Regions from separate parts of the Homo sapiens genome. Here region 1 is linked to region 2. The links come from fine-mapping of genetic effects on gene expression. Tissue or cell type: whole blood. Region 2 holds a variant in brackets; the other region holds the start of a gene. All regions are shown on one strand. Distances are from middle to middle.

Region 1 (2,766 bases), 60 kb before region 2:
GTGTGTGTGTGCACGCGCGCGCGCTGGTGGGGGCATGGGAAAGAGAGGTATACTTTCAGAATTCTCTCCTGGTGGCTCCCTCTTTCCCTTGGGAAATCTTCGCACAAGTCTCAGATTGTGCATGTTCAACTGCTCATATCTGGAGATACTCCAGCAATGCCTTTAACCAGATCTGATCAGAAATCTCCACCTACTCAGCTAGAGGCTCCTCCATGATCAGGACGCTTGTACTGTCTTCACCACATCTGTCATTTTTTAAAAAGCTTCTTCCACTACACCTCCCACTGATATCCTTTTTTTCTCTTTTTAGTCTTTACACCTCCAGCAGGACAAAGTTTGTATTGTTATATTCACAACCACTAGTAGCTGACTAGCAGGAGAGAGAGAGAGCGGCTTCAGGAGAGCCAGGTTCGGGGGCTTCAAAAGGATACCTAGCGCAAAGCATGACTTTCCAATGACTGCGTACAACATGCACATTGCTCTCTTCTAAAAATGCTTTGTTAAATTTCATCACCCCTGTTCTCAACTCAACCACTACCACTTTGGAGAGGGAAATACAAATTGCCAGCCCAAGCCATTCATCAAACAGCAACAGAATCCACGGGGTGGTGGGGGGGATAGAGAAGAGGCGGGGGTGATGCAGGGGGTGGATTTAAAGAATCAAGGATGCACACGTACTGTATTTTCAAGAGCATCGCCTGGGCGGATTTGGTTTCTTTGGCCGGCTGTCCAGCTATAAGACCGCCCTCTTCTTCATTAAGGAGGAGCCAAAAAGGATATCTTCACATCTCAGAACACAGACCATTTCCCCCAAGAGCCAGCAAAGCTCCAGAGGCAGAGAATGCAGCTGCAAAGTTCCCTTCCAATCTCTTGGGGAAAGATGCCTGTGTGTGCAGAATCCCCAAAGCACACCACGGCACAGTGCCCAGAGACGTGGACCCCGCAGCCCACTCCCTGCTACCCCCTACATTTCTTCCTCGTCTGTCTCTGCCCCGCCACACCTCCCTCCTCTCCGCAGTCCGTGGTGAATGAGCACCCAACGCCCGCTGGAAAACAGGGGGCTCGGAAATGTGGCCTTGGGGAAAGACCCCAGGGATTACCGGAAGGAGGGATGTCCGCGGAGAAGAGTCCAGTGGGTGGGGACGCCTGGATCCCCAGCAGCTCTGCATTCGGGGTGGACTTAGCTCTTCGCGCCCTGAATCCTCAGAGCCCAGCGCGGTGCAGGGTGCAGCATCTCTCCTTAGCAGCCCTTTCTTCCTCCGGCAGCCTGCACTGGCAGGCAGGCAGGCACCCTCACGCCCAGACGCACCAGCCCGAGCAATTTCACTCTGGGAAGCGCGGACACCCAGAAAAATGTGCAGGCGCGCACACACCACATCACACACACACACACACACACACACACACACACACACACACACACACAAATTTAGAAGCCGCTCGTTTGCCAAAGCAGAGGGAAGTGTAGCCTTATGAGCAGCAAATGGAAAATAGTTCTTGGTCTCTGACTAAATGCCTTCTGCCTGTCCATCATAAGATCCTACCTGGTTTGGGGAGTGTGAATGGATTCTTCCTCCGTTCCTCCACGCTAGTAGAAAATACGGCGCACTCCCTCCTTTTAAACAGCTCCCGATCAGGAAGAGGTCGCTCCCATCTTCTGTGGGAAGCACAAAGCAGGCGGCGGCGGCGGGCTGACTACCGTGCAGCGCCGGCGCGAGCGGGAGCCGCGGCAGCGGGCAGCGGTGCGCGCGGGCGGGAGGCAGGCGCGGAGGCCGGGAGGCTGGGAGGGCCGGGGCCCGGGCGCGCGCGCGCTCCCCCTCCCTCCCGCGCACACTCGCCCGCCCGCCGCCCGCAGCCTCGCACTCGCTCACACGCGCGCTCGGCCCCGCGGCTGCCGGGCGCCCCGGGGCCCCCTGCGCGCCCCTTGGGCTCCCCAGGCGATCGCGTCGGGGCAAAGCCGGCGCGTTTCTGGAGCACCGAGCGGGTGGGGAGCCCTTCCAGCCTCCCAGCCTCTGCCGGCGAGCAGCTTTTTCGATTTCCTGCCGGCTCTCGGCCCCGCAGTGCGTTGTGGCCGCGCGCTAGCGCTGTCTCTCGCACCCAGCCCATCGATGACACGCGCACACAGGCGCTGCAACTTTTCTTTTGAACCCTCTTCTTCTCTTCCGCAGACAGAACCCTGACCCCCAATTCGCCTACCCGTTTCTCACCTCTGACTTTGTTAATCCAACTATCTTTCTTCCCTCACTTCCTGCCCTTCTGCTAAAGGAAGCTTTCTTTTAGCAAAAGGATCTGGGCATATATCAATGATTTTTTTTTTAATCCTCACCCTGTGTTTTTCTACGTATCAGATATGCACAACTATACGTTGGCTACTAGATGCTGACACAAGCAAACAGAGATATTCGGGGGAGGGTGTCCCCCGGCCAAGAACTGGGACAGAGTCTCTGTGTTGGTATTTCCCTCAAAGATGCGTTTCACCTGGGAATAAAGACCCAGAGTCTGTTTCGTGTGAAAGGCGTGCTGGTTTTAAACTACAGTGAGGAGTAAAAGCCGAGCATTAAGGTTGAGTGGGAAAAAACCTAATGCAGCAATCGACGAACCATTCTTTGCCCTTTCCAAGAGAAGCATTATCATTGCCAATAAATCACTTTCCTCATAATTAATAAAGGAACACTGCACCAGGCCTTTCCTCTCTTGACAGCTCATTCATTCTTACAAACCCTTAATGACTTCACGTGGTGAAAGGCTAGACCTACTGTGGAGTTC
Region 2 (2,766 bases):
GGATTACAGGCGTGAGCCACCGTGCCCGGCCGCCATTTTGTTTATTTATTTATTATTTTTTTACGTAAGACTGCCAACACCTTCAATTTTCCTCTCAAAATATGATTTCTTTAAGATTTTCTAGATGTATAGTCATCACTAAATGCTTAAGAAGTCATGAAATAAAAGGGCAAGTAGCTTGACTGTCATGAATTTTCTTCCACAAATGTTGACATAGTATATACAAAATTAGCAGTAAGTCATTGTCTATTACTTATATTATGCTTCTTGGATTAGTTTTCAAGAGAAAAAACAGGAGCAGACATTTCTCATGAGGAGTGCACACTTGAAATGCACTTGGCAGTAGGCAAACGAGAAGATAGTAGCTGATATCATATATGCATTGCATCTGTTCACAAACACTAGTGGCATCATTTATGTCAACCTTTTACATATTGAAAATTGCAAAGACTCCTGCTGTGCTGTTTCTTTTGAGAAGCCGGCTGGTATATAGTGTTTAATTAAGTATTTTAAAGCCATCTTTTCGTAGGCCTGTTCCACTTTAGCAAAAGTTATGACAGCTTGTCTCTGTTAGTTTAAAAAAAGAAGGCATAGTTTATTCTCTCTCTCTCTTTCTAACTCTCTCACAAATATAGAATATTAGTATTTTTAAGTAAAATAGCCTATTTTAGAAATATAGAAATATGTTATTTTAATGTGCTCTCAATGTAAATAGGCATATAAAAGAATAATTTGATGGAAACAATCCCTTAGTATTGTAATTATTTTAATAATTATAGTGCACTATTGAAATAAAAACACATTTCCTCTTTCTCTGCCACTTTTTTGGTGTAATGGGACATTCAGAGCTTGAAAGAAACCACCACATAAGTAGTCATTTCATCTGTATCTGTTAAATGAATTGCTTTTCCCAGACATCTAATTTATCCAGAGAACATCTCCTTGGTCAGTATTACAAATTGTTTTTATTTTCTTACACTTGCTTATTAATAATTTTCCATGTCATGTCTGTCATCAGAGAAGGAAGGTCACATTCAATATTTCTCCATTTCTCTTTTCTTTTTTCCCACTCATACTCTAGATTGAAAACTTAGCTAAGTAAAAACAATTGGTTCAAATCTTATTTGAATTATGGACACATTATTCTCAGTAAAATAAATCTTGAGTTTAAATCCCATTATCTTGTGTAAATTTTTTTAATTCAATCTTGGCAAAACATGCATATTTTAAAGATATGACCTATAATTTTTTCTCTTGACTTTTGTGTTTGGCAGGAGTTCACAGACTTTGCTAACAATTTTAACAGATATGCTTTAATTTAATAACTACAATTTGGTAATTAGCTGGAGTCGCATTTCAAAATGCAATTGATATGATTTGGCTGGATTTATCTGTATTCTAGAAAATACAGGACAGTCGTATAGATACTGGTGTTGTTACTCTGTTCATATTCACACTTTTACCTTGCATCATTCCTGAGACACAGAATTTTTGATATTCTGCCACAATCTATTCCCAAAACATCACTGATGACAAAACGATAATAATCTTTGGAAACATTTCCTCTCAAGTTCCAAAGTTTTCAGTCAGTAGAAAAAAAAGAAAGAAGACAAAATTTTAAAGGTGCTGAGAAAAGCCCAGGGCTCACAGCTGGTTTCAGCAACTTCAACTTGCGTAAGACCCCGTGTTTGTGAAAACAACCCAAGAATCTTT[G/C]AACAGGATGTAATCAACCTCCGAACTGCTGAGAAATATTGCAAAAATGACTTCAGCTGCCAAAAATAATGTCGTTTACAAGCAGCTCTTCCTATGTCTAAGGAAGAACTAGTCACACATGCGAGTTTTTGCTGGCTTGAGAACAAGCAAGGAAAAAGACAAATCCCACCTACCCTAGCCTAAAATACACAGTGAGTCTCAGAACCCCGCGGAAGCTGTGGCTCATTTCTAAAGGTGCTGGCAATATCGAGGAAGACTTGTATCCACAAAATTCCAAATGGTAAGTGACCCAGGACAGAGGGATTTTATTTGGCAGCAAATCTGTGTTGCCACTTTCCTTCCGTTGCAAAGCTTCCCTGTCTTGTGGAGGCAGAGCTGTTAAATACCTCTTAGTCACTAGCTCCAACCTATTTTTTTGTTTGTTTGTTTTTCTTTTCAAAATATTATCTGGCACCTTCCCTTAAAGGACATCAAGGGCTCTGGAGGAAATATTTGCAAATGATCCTTTATAGAAGTTCCATCACAAAAGCCCGGCACCTACCTCTGTCAAGCTTTGGCTGCTCAGTCCGCATGGGCTGGATGTGAAAAAAGATCCCAGTATGATGCCTTCTCTAAATTTACCAGAAAGAAAGGACCTGGGATGCTTGTCCTTTAAGTGTCTCTAAACATGGTTTGCATAGCTGGATCTCAGCTTATCTGTGCCTTTCGGCTTTCGCTTCCATACATGGATCTGTTCCCAACAGTAACTCCAAGCTGTCGAAAAGAAGCTATCTGGCAGCTCTCTGCTTCATCCAACACATGGATGATAAAAATACACATATAGCGATTCTTCCAGCCAGGCCCATTTCCCACCACATGATCCTGTCACTATGCTTTTTTTTTTTTTTTTTTTTCCAAAACACTTTTGAGATTGGCATTTCTACTCTCCAAATATTTAGATCATAACCAATTTTTACCTGATTCCCACATAAAGCTTTTAGGGTGTGGGTTCGCCTAGCTTTATGAAAACAGAGAGACAATTATGGTTCCTTACTAGAGTCTTCATCCTTAAAG

The links. PIP is the estimated chance that this variant, and not a neighbour inherited with it, causes the effect.
Region 1: SLC8A1 starts here. The variant in region 2 is fine-mapped to the expression of SLC8A1 in whole blood (TOPMed, PIP above 0.99).

The regions. Positions count from the first base shown.
Region 1 is chr2:40,450,360-40,453,125 of GRCh38, forward strand. SLC8A1 (solute carrier family 8 member A1) reads right to left here and starts at 1,731. Exons shown (of 11, transcript NM_021097.5): 1 at 1,545-1,731.
Region 2 is chr2:40,510,095-40,512,860 of GRCh38, forward strand. LOC101929667 (a long non-coding RNA gene) reads left to right here and starts at 1,828. Exons shown (of 5, transcript XR_007086295.1): 1 at 1,828-1,993. It also overlaps a transcript of SLC8A1 not described here. The variant G/C (reference allele first, on the strand shown) is at 1,714.